Linked DNA regions of Homo sapiens: region 1 is linked to region 2. The links come from fine-mapping of genetic effects on gene expression. A gene starts in region 2. The other region holds a variant in brackets. All regions are shown on one strand. Distances are between the middles of the regions. Region 1 overlaps ENPP6 (ectonucleotide pyrophosphatase/phosphodiesterase 6). Region 2 holds the start of ENPP6 (ectonucleotide pyrophosphatase/phosphodiesterase 6).

The links. PIP is the estimated chance that this variant, and not a neighbour inherited with it, causes the effect. A credible set is the group of variants that fine-mapping cannot tell apart.
Region 1: its variant is the best candidate, but not a certain one, in a credible set for the expression of ENPP6 in tibial nerve (GTEx, PIP 0.77).

Annotation. Positions count from the first base shown.
Region 1 is chr4:184,187,839-184,193,214 of GRCh38, reverse strand. The region is part of intron 1 of ENPP6 (ectonucleotide pyrophosphatase/phosphodiesterase 6); the gene reads left to right. Among named protein-coding and RNA genes, the nearest start is that of ENPP6, 27 kb to the left of the region's middle. The variant G/A (reference allele first, on the strand shown) is at 2,788.
Region 2 is chr4:184,215,102-184,220,477 of GRCh38, reverse strand. It overlaps ENPP6 (ectonucleotide pyrophosphatase/phosphodiesterase 6), which reads left to right and starts at 2,605. Exons shown (of 8, transcript NM_153343.4): 1 at 2,605-2,899. The coding sequence starts at 2,659.

The sequences.
Region 1 (5,376 bases), 27 kb after region 2:
CCATTGTGAATAATACTGCTGTGAACATTTGTGCACAAGCCTTTGTGTGAATATATGTTGTCATTTCTCCTGAATAGATACGTAAGAGTGAAATTGTTGCATCATAGGATAATTCTGTGTTTAACATTTTGAGAAATTGCCAAACCATTTTTCAAAATGGCTGCACCATTTTACATTTTCACCAGCAATGTGTGAGGTTCTGACATCTCCACAACCTCACCAACACTTGTTATTATCTTTTTAAAATTAGAGCCACTCTGATAAAAGAGCCATTATTGTCTTTTTTATCAAAGCCATTCCAGGGTTATGAAGTGGCATTTCATGGTTGTTTTATTTGCATTTCCCTAAAAACTAATGATGTTGAGCATTTTCTTTTCATGTGCTTGTGGACTGTGTGATAATTTCTTTGGAGAAATGTTTATACAAATCCCTTTACTCATTTTAAAAATTAGATTGTCATTTTATTTTTAGTTGTAGGAGTTCTTTCTATATGCTAGATATAAATTCCTTATGGGATATATGATTGGCATGTATTTTTCTTCCAGGCTGTGAGTTGTCTTTTCACTTTCTTCATGGGATGTCTTGCTGTACAAAAGCATTTATTGTTGATGAAGTCCTATTTATCAACTTTTCCTTTTACGACTTGTACTTTTTGTGTCATAACTACAAAATAATTGCCTAACCCAACATCGTGATGATTTACTCCTATGTTTTCTTATAAGACAAAGAAAATTTCTAGCTCTTACATTTAAGTTTGTGACCCCTTTTGAATTAATGTTTATATACAGTGTGAGGTAGTTGTCCCCGCACTATTTGTGAAAAAGACTATTCCTTTTCCATTGACTATTTCTGACAGCTTTGTCAAAAATCAATTGATCATAAATATTAGAGATTATTCTTGGGCTCTCAATTTTATTCCAATAATCTCTTGATGTTTAGGTGTATCCTTATGGTGAGATCAGACTATCATGATTGCCACGCTTTGTAGAAAGTTTCAAAATCAGTATACATAAATCCTTTAATTTTGTTCTTTTTAAGATTGTTTTGGCTATTCCAAGTCACTTGTACTTTCATATTAAATTTGGGAAGAACATGTCAACTTTTGCCAAAGCCAGCTGGAATTTGGATAAGGATTGTGTTGAATCTGTAGTCCAACTTAGGTAGTATTGCCATCTTAACAATACTAAGTCTTCTGATCCATGAATATGGGCTGTCTTTCCATGTATTTGGGTTGTTGCAGTTTCCTTCAGCAATGCTTTGTAGCTTTCAGCGTACATTTGGTACTTCTTTTGCTAAATATTGCTAAATGTTTTATTTTTTTTGACGTTAATGTGAATGGAATTATCTTCAGAATTTTATTTTTGCAGTATATAAACTGTAATTATCTTCCTACCTTACTGAATTTGTTTATTAGTTAAAAGTTTTTTGTGTATTCCTGAGGATTTTCTGCATACAAGAATATACAAGATCATATTTTCTGCAGATAAAGGCAGTTACTTCTTCCTTTCTAATCTTGATGCCTTCAATTGATCTTTACAGTCACGTTAGGAGTTATGTACAGGCATTTTACAGATGAGAGAACTTTCATCTAGAGAAGTTAAGTGCCTTGCCTGAGGTCAACTAGTCAGGAAGTGAGTGGATCAGGACCAGAACAGAGGGCTTCTGCTTCCCCCTCCATCGCTCTGCGTTCTCAACACACTGCCTCCAGTTGGCAGAGTCAGGATCTGAGAAGACAATGGATGGCCTATCTCTGTAGCACTCCTATTGTCTTCCTTTATTACAAGTAGCCGGATTCAGTCAAGCAGGGAGCAGAACGTACATTTCCCAAATGTCTACCGTATTTTGTGCTATGCTCAGTGCTAGGTACGTTCAAACACTATTCCAATTAATCCTCATAAAACCCTATAAAGTAGTCACAATTGTTCCCATTTTACAAATGAGGAAACCAAGGCTCTGAGATATTAAATTACTTGTTCAAGATTACAGGGCCCATAAATGGAAGAACTATGAGTACAAAATCCTGTGCTCCCCACAACATCATGCTGCCTCTTCCTTCTGACTTCTAAGGAAGCAGCTCTCAGGGCCGCCATCCTGCATAGGCATCTACGTGTCTCTCCCTTAGACAGTGATCTTGTAGCTGCATATGCACGTGGCATACGCCTGCACACATAGACACCCATAGTACATGAGCCACTGCCTTTCCAGGCTTCCTTCAGACTAAGCAACCTCCTGGGTAACTATTTTTTAAACCCTCCTTTGTGTGTCTCAATGGACAATGTGAACAATAAGCGCTTCTGGGGTTGAGCATAAAAGAGAGGATTCAACATCAGACACTTAGCTACTTATCTCAAATGGTCAAGGCTGCACAGTTGTGAAAAATGGCTTAAACAGGCCTCTTTTGATAAGTCACATCTGGGATACTGCCCCAGACCACCAAGATGCAGCTCTGGACAAGTTGCTTCTGATTATACTTGGTTATGGGGACCTGGGAGGGCATGGTGGTCCCAATGAGGGCAGGGTCTGACTCACCCTACATCCCACTCAATGTGTCTCATGCTCCCTGACACTTAGTAAGCACTCTATAAATGCCTCCTTGTATATGTTTTAAAGTTTCTTGAAGCTGCTGTATCCTAAATAGTTAGCCAGCTTTCCTTTTTAGCTGTTCTCTTCCCCATCTCATTTCCACTCCAAACAGAAAAGAAATTCCTGCTGCCAATCTATCAAGGGTGATATGTTTAGTCTTAGAGCAGATGAAACATCCAAATGAAAATGAGGGAGATCAGCTCA[G/A]ACATATCTCCCCGATTCTCTCTGCTCTCTTCTCCCCAGTGACAGTCCACACACAAACCAGGATAAGTTCTAGAAGCACAAAGCAGAAATGGAAGGAATTAAGTATTTTGCAAACTCTGTCAAATATTGTGAGGGGCAAGAAGGCACCATACTTAAACTCTATGGTTTACCTTTTCACTAAATTCCAGATCGGTGAGTAATCCAGTACTCTGGTGGTTTAAACAACTTCTTTTGTATTACCCAAGAGATATTAGGTTTGAGAGTTCAAGCCACTTATAACAGAGAGTCTGGAAAATTTCTCAGAGACGGCGGTTCCCTGAGGCGACATGGTGTGTGGTAGGTTTTCTATTTTAGCACCCCTGCTTCCAGGTGGTTTCATGGTCAGCAAGAGAATATGATTTTTAATAACATGAAATAAAAAGGCAATGCTTCTGCCAAAATGAGATTACCTTGTATTTTACTCAGCCATATTTTATATTTTCTCAGTTCTTTGCCAAATCCAACCACTTGTCTCCTCACACGAGTTCCCTTCCTTTTCATGCTCACATGCTGATCCTGGGCTCTGGCTGGCTCGCTCCTCTCCATCTCTTGGAGATATTCATGGGAGGAGAGTCAGGATGGACCAGAAGTGGGAGACACGGGTTCTACTCCGGGCTGTGGTGAGATCTAAACCTTGTGGCTTCAGACAAAGTCTCCTTGGGTTCAAGTTGCTTTTCTTTAAAAATGAGGACATTAAGGACTCCACGGAGTTTATTTGAACATTCCTGCAGGGTCCTCTCTTTCTTCTGCCCTTCTGGCCTCCTCTGGTCTGTTTCCTCATGAGGCTTCCTGACTTTGTCCGTGGAAAGGCAGGACTGTCATTGGTCATGAGCCCCGTTCACTGCCAGTGCTGCGGACTCAAACCGGAGCTTCAGCATTGCTTAGCACCGGAAGCCTGTCCATGCTTACCTTTACTTTTTAAAGCGTGAATTTAGTCTTTCTATACCCCTTTCCCTAGATGAGACTCAAAGTTATGATTTAAAAAGAGGGAAAGTGGCCTGATTTGAGGTAGGATTTGTGGGGTTAGAAATCTAGGCCAGGAATTTCTGTTGAAAATCACATCTTTCACTACCAGTTTCCCTGAGGGACAAAGTCTAATTCTTTTTGGGAACTATCTAATGGACACCATCCCCTCTGGTTTCAACACAGCACCCCTGACTCAGGAAACTGACAGGACTTCCTTTCCTTCCATGGCCAGGAAAGGAAGGCGGCTGAGAGGAGAAATCCCCTGGCATATACATGAGGAACTATTTATTATATCAACTCCAATCCACTTTCCCAGCACGGCCCAGCTCTCTTAGTGTGCAGAGCCACTCGGCTCCAAGCTGCAGCCCCAAAGCACTTGACAGACTTGAATGGTCACCCTGGTGGGTCACAGGTGGAAAGTCCAGGAAATTACATTTTCAAAGAATGGCAAATGCATCCACTTGCTTAATCACCTTATCTGTCATTTTGCTTCCTAGGAATCTTTCTAGATCTATTCAGGTTCAAGTCTAAGTGTTAATAGGGCCAGGGTTTGACTTCTTCATGGAAATCAGTACCTCCTCCGTCACATAAAATGCAAAGCTGGTCCTACCAGTAGGCCCAGGGGATTAACAATCAGTCTCTCATGTGTGAGCGTGAGACATCTTTATCTTGAATGAAGCCTCCCACATTTAATTGGCAATACATTTTCCTGAATCTTTTCTCAGAAGACTTGCTTCTCTCTCCAGCTAAACTGTTCATAAATCTGTAGCCCTCTGGAGCAATGTGGCATCGTCTCCCCACGTGGCTTCTGAACCAGCTTTCCCTCTCACGTGAGATGCCTGTGTGTGGTCTCATGGAGCTGATTCCTAGCAGCCATATGCAAACACAGCGTGGCAAGACTGTGACACAGCTTCAGGACAGAAGCTTTGAGTCGTGTGCCAACCCTTGACTCAAGCAGAGCGTGGGACCCCAGATCGTCAATTTGGGGGGATGGGGGTGAAAATGGCAGTTGGTGAAGAAATTACCTTCTTTGTTTGGAACAAAAACCTAGGACAATATTTTCTTTGGTTGAAGGAATTGGGTTAACAACATACATTGTAGGTCTTGGAATATACCCCACAGACGCCAACCTCCGTTGATGTTTTTCATAAAGAGAAACGACTGGGAAAGGCTTCAGGCACAACGGAAACTGACAGGACTTCTAGAATTGAAACATAAACATAAGGATGGAAACAAAACACCCCTGGGTTTGTTCAACCCATGGGCCATGTTATACTCTGTCCTGGAATGGTCTTCTGTAAGAGCATGCTACCATAAAGGTAACACACAGAAGCTGACTCCAAGAGGCCTGTGCTTCCATACATCATCTATCGTGACTCTAGCATCCAGTCATAAACCTTATTTTAATTAAAGAATGTATGCTCCAAGAGCAGGACTTGGTCTTGTTCTGCGCTGTATCCCCAGCTCCTGGACAGTCTGGTTTATTCTTCATTCATTCATTCTTCATTCAACAAAATATTTTCAGAGCTTGCTATGTGTAAATAATAGGTGTCTATTCATTCATTTATTCAAGAAGTATCTCTC
Region 2 (5,376 bases):
TCTTCCCTTCCCTCCCTTTCCCTTCTTCCCATCCCTCCCTTTCCCTTCTTCCCATCCCTCCCTTTCCCTTCTTCCCATCTCTTCTCTTCCCTTCTTCCCTTTTCTTCCCTTCTTCCCTTTTTCCTTTCCCTTCCCTTCCCTCCCCTCCCTTCCATTCCCCTCACCTTCCCTTTCCTTCTCTTCTTCCCTTCTTCCCTTCCTTTCCCTTCCCTTCCCTTCCCTCCCCTCCCCTCCCTTCCCCGCCCCTTTCCTTCCCTTCTCTTCTTCGCTTTTCTTCCCTTCTTCTCTTCCCTTCCCTTCTTCCCTTCTATTCTTTTTTTTCCTTCCCTTCCCCTTCCCCTTTCCCTTTCCTTTCCCTTCTTTCCCTCCCTTCCCTTCCCCTCCCCTTCCCTTCCCTTCCCTTCCCTTCTTCGCTTTTCTTCCCTTCTTCTCTTCCTTTCCCTTCTTCCCTTCTATTCTTTTTTCCTCCTTCCCTTCCCCTTCCCCTTACCCTTTCCCTTCCCTTCCTTTCCCTCCCTTCCCTTCCCCTCCCCTTCCCTTCCCTTCCCTTCTTCGCTTTTCTTCCCTTTTTCTCTTCCTTTCCCTTCTTCCCTTCTATTCTTTTTTTCCTCCTTCCCTTCCCCTTTCCCTTTCCCTTCCCTTCCTTTCCCTCCCTTCCCTTTCCTCCCCTTCCTTCCCCTCCCCTTTCCTTCCCTTCCTCCCTTTTCTTCCTTTCTTCTCTTCCCTTCTGTTCTCTTTCCTTCTTCCCTTTTCTTCCCTTCCCTTTCTTTCTCTTTCTCCCTTCCTTCGTTTACTTTTCTTTCTTTCCTTTTTCTTTCTTTCTTCCTTCCTTTCCTCTTTCTTCTCTCTTTTCTTTTTCTCTGTTTATAGCAACAATACCACACAGCTCAAAGAAAAAAGAATAACATTGTTTTCAAAGTAACAACCTTTTAGGATAAACTCCCCTTTTCCTTATTTTTTAATAAGAAAAAAATTTAAATTTAATTATAAAAAGCATTACCTCTTATTGGAAAAAAGAATTCTGATCCTTGGCCAAGTCCCCTGAGAGGGGAGTGGTAATTTGGCCAATGTGTTTCTCTTTTGCAGCATAATTTAAAAAGTGACATGGTGATCCTGTGTTTGGGCTTGACTCAAATACAACAGAAAAAGAGAAGGAGAAAAGACACAAGCAGAGGGCAGAGGTGGAAGAGGGATTTTGGGGTTGACTGAGAGTGGCTGGTGTGGCTGGTGTCTATCTTCCTTCCCTGGAAAGTTTGCCCAGAGCCTGCAAGTTTCCTCAGGAGACAAGCAATGTTATAATGCGAATAACATCTAACATTTGTTCAACACTTGCTATGGACCATGCATGTTTTATGTCTTTTTTTTTTTGAGGCAGGGCCTCACTCTGTTGCCCAGCCTGGAGTGCAGTGATACAATCACAGCTTACTGCAGATATGACCACCTGTGCTCACACAATCCTCCCACCTCAGCCTCCTGTGTAGCTGGGACCAGGCACGTGCCGCCAGGCCCAGCTAATTTTTTAATTTTTTATAGAGATGGGGTCTTGCTGTGTTGCCCAGGCTGGTCTCAAGCTCCTGGCCTCAAGCAATCCTTCCACCTTGGCCTCCCAAAGTGGGCCACTGCACTCAGCCATGTTTTATAAGCCTTCACATGAATTGTGTTGTTTAATTTTATGTAGCATGACGGAGCCACTCTAGGGAACCCCTGGACTCTGGGTACTTTGTGCTAACTCTGTCTGCTCCCCAGCTCACATCTGCCTCCCTGTCACTAACCTCCTCCTATTTTCCACTCCGCCTAGTCTTCTCGGTCCCAAAGCCTGCATGGTAATTTCTAGCTCTGCTTTTCCATCTCAAGCTCTCAATCTCCAGCTCTCTATTTCATTTCCATCCTCCTGGGGCAATGCTGCTTCAGACCATTCTGCCAGTAATGATTTCCCATTGTCCAACTCTGGAAGCTTCTCATTGGCTCTAGGGCTCTTCTACGAACCACCTCCTCCTATGGGCACCAGCAGCTAAATCACATTTGAAAAATAAAATAATAACAAATAATAACACTGCATATAAAAACATAAGTGGCCAAGACATAGACAAATAACTTTTTTAAGTGCTGTGTCTACAGAGACACAGCTGGGAAGTTTACAAATGGGCCCACCGAAACGTATTGTTTCCTGTTTATGCACTGAGTCCAGAGGTTTGCGTTACTAAATTCTAAGTGAAAAAGAGTTTAAATGAGGCCATGATGTGGGATAACAGCAAATTAAAATCTTGCCCTTTTCCTTGGTTCCTCCCTTTGGTTAGCTCAACTGCAAAGTTAGTGTTGACTTTGTCATCTTCTAAAATTCCACCTCTGTGGGTGCTTGTATTTCTGGAACGTTCACCAAAAATAATAAGTTTGAACTCTCTCCCCTGGTGTTAATTCTGGGTTGTTTGGAACCCAGTTTATCTGAAGGAGTCGGTCTCTGGACTTTCTAGTAAAGGGTGAGCATAGATGTGTGGAAAAGGGGGTGCTGTTCCTTTAAATTCTGCAAGTGAACTTGACTCAGGAAGGCCAGCGGCTCAAGGTCCAGCCCCTGGAAGAGAGAATAGCTACAGATTCTCCATCCTCAGTCTTTGCAAGGCGACAGCTGTGCCAGCCGGGCTCTGGCAGGCTCCTGGCAGCATGGCAGTGAAGCTTGGGACCCTCCTGCTGGCCCTTGCCCTGGGCCTGGCCCAGCCAGCCTCTGCCCGCCGGAAGCTGCTGGTGTTTCTGCTGGATGGTTTTCGCTCAGACTACATCAGTGATGAGGCGCTGGAGTCATTGCCTGGTTTCAAAGAGATTGTGAGCAGGGGAGTAAAAGTGGATTACTTGACTCCAGACTTCCCTAGTCTCTCGTATCCCAATTATTATACCCTAATGACTGGTGAGTACCATGTCCTCTTCTGGGCAGGGAGGGGAGGGCTGGCATCCAGCAGGGAACAGTGAGCTCCTGGCATTGGAGTCTTATTTAAATGCTCTGGATTCTCTAGTCCTTTGGGACATCAAAGGTAGATAAAAAAAATCTGTGTTCTTGGCTGAGAAGACTTTTGTTTTCGTGGCGGTATTGTTTCCCAAAAGTTATCCCAAGGACCTGTTTTGGATTCTCAGTGCGGAGGACAGAGAACTATAGCAGTACATGATATTTGACGATATTAAAAGTGGTCGTTTATTTTAGAAAGAGAAATTCTAATGAGGCTCATATTTTCTAAGTTCAAGTCTGCAAAAGCAACAGGTGTCCGTGCATGTGTCCCAAACTCCTTCTGTCCCTTTTCTCTGTGGTCATGTCATCCTGGCACCCTGTGGGCTTGTTTCTCAGTGTGTTGGACTGTGAAAGTACCTGTGGGGTCCTCAGAGGGGAGTGGTGCTCCCGGATTACTTGGGGAAGGGGGGATGTTTAGGTCATATCCTTCCCTGTGACTTAGCAATGCCACCTTCCCCTTCTTTTGCCTTTTTGGCCAGGTAAAATGATACGGAGAAGAAAAAGCTTGTGTCGTTCAGGTTCCCCATTTGTGATTTGCAGCATCTACAAAAGACCAACCAGCAAAAACTCCACAAAACAAACAAAAACCTCGGCTAACCCAGACTGCCTGGGCTTGGGATAGCTGATTTTCCTAAGGACGGCCTTCATCTGAAATTGCCAGGACTCCAAACGCGACTGCATGAACCTGAGCCTCTATCCGTGCGATAATAGAATGTGCAGCCCTCTCTCTGCTCACAGAGTTGGATTCCCAGTTTCTGGTTTGTTTTTCAGCTATAACCTTTGTAAAGGCAGCGAGAGGCTCTCAGAAAGAATTTAGCAAACTATCCAGGGAGGCTGCTAAGAATGCACTGTTATTGCTGGTTATGCGGGACTCAGCTATGCACTCTGAGCACAGAGAGAGCTCTGCTAATTATGTTAACAGAAAGAAAATGAGATCTCTGATATCTCATGGACCTCCACAGAACACTAAAGCCAAAAGAGTCTAAAACAGACATTTATATCTCTGACTTTGTGCATAGATACTATATACACATGTACGGAAAAATGCCATAAACTGATGCCCCAAACTGAAGGGGAGAGATACTTCGGAGAAATAAAAATGAGGGCATGAGAGAGAGAAAAAAATCAGACTGCACACAAGCAAGGAAGTTATGTATTTGTTTTTTATTTCCCCCAGCAGACAAAAAAACAGTCTCTAAGATAAACAGAATTAACAAAATTCTCTGGCCCTCCCCTGGCATGTGTCTCCCCTTGCAGGGAAGCAGTTTGCAGGCTGCCGGCTCTCACATAGACGTGATTGTGTGGACAGCCGACTCCAGCTCTGTGCAGCGGCTTCACACACACAGCCCACCCCCACTCCAGCTGTCTTTCAGAGCCTTGCCAGGGGACCCAATTCATAAACTGCCACGCCACGTGCAGCTTCTGCAATCTTAGTGGAAAATGAACAAAATCCATCTTAGAAAGGACTCAAGTAAGTAAAAGGACCATTACAGACTCCACAGAGACACTAAGCCAATGACATGGCCTTTTGTTTGTCAGATCCACACTCCTGATATTGGCACAAGGAATAATTTGCACACAGCCTCCGTCATGCTGAGACACACCTTCTTTTCCGGCTGTGGGTGTTTTCCCTTGTGCTGTCCTGAGAGAAGGGCCCCTTCCTTTATGGGCAGCACAGGTCCCGTGAGTGTCTGACAAAGATCTCACCCTTGCTTTCAAACTGAGGCTGGCCCGAGGAAGCCACAGGTCTCCATATGTGTTAAGTCTCTGTATTTTCAGATGGCCAAATGTATTCACTGATGTGGAAGTCTGCTTGGTCTATATGTTTCATAGAAGCTACCCTGCACAAGGGAGGGATCTAGCAAGGCTCATGTTTCTGTACAAATGTCCTTGGGTATGATTTGTCTTGTACCTACTGGGCAGACTTGCAGACTTGAAGCAGAATTCGCAGGCTGGGAAATGCCAGGCCATGAACCTGGTATCACCTCCACTGTCTTGGAACTGACTCAGAGTTAAATTTAGACTATTTTCCCCAATACCCATACTTATTTTTCCACCTGATGCTGAAAACCTCCTCTTTTACTCATATAAAGAAGGATATAGCCATTGGGAATTGTAGCTAAACATATGGTTTGAGCATTTGAGCATTTTATGAACCAACAAAATTGCTATGCTAGATCTTTTTGGAAGCAAAAGATATGCTGTTTTAGGGTTCCTCAGCATTCACAAGAGAGGCTAAGCTCTCACTTCATTACCCGAATTATTGCTCAGAATACAGAAAGCCCTTGGTGTTCTTCCCTTTGCATAACGAGGAGTGATGAGTTGTTGGAAAGAATGCTGGCCCTTGAGCTGGGAGAACTTGCTTGGAGACTTCAGGCAAA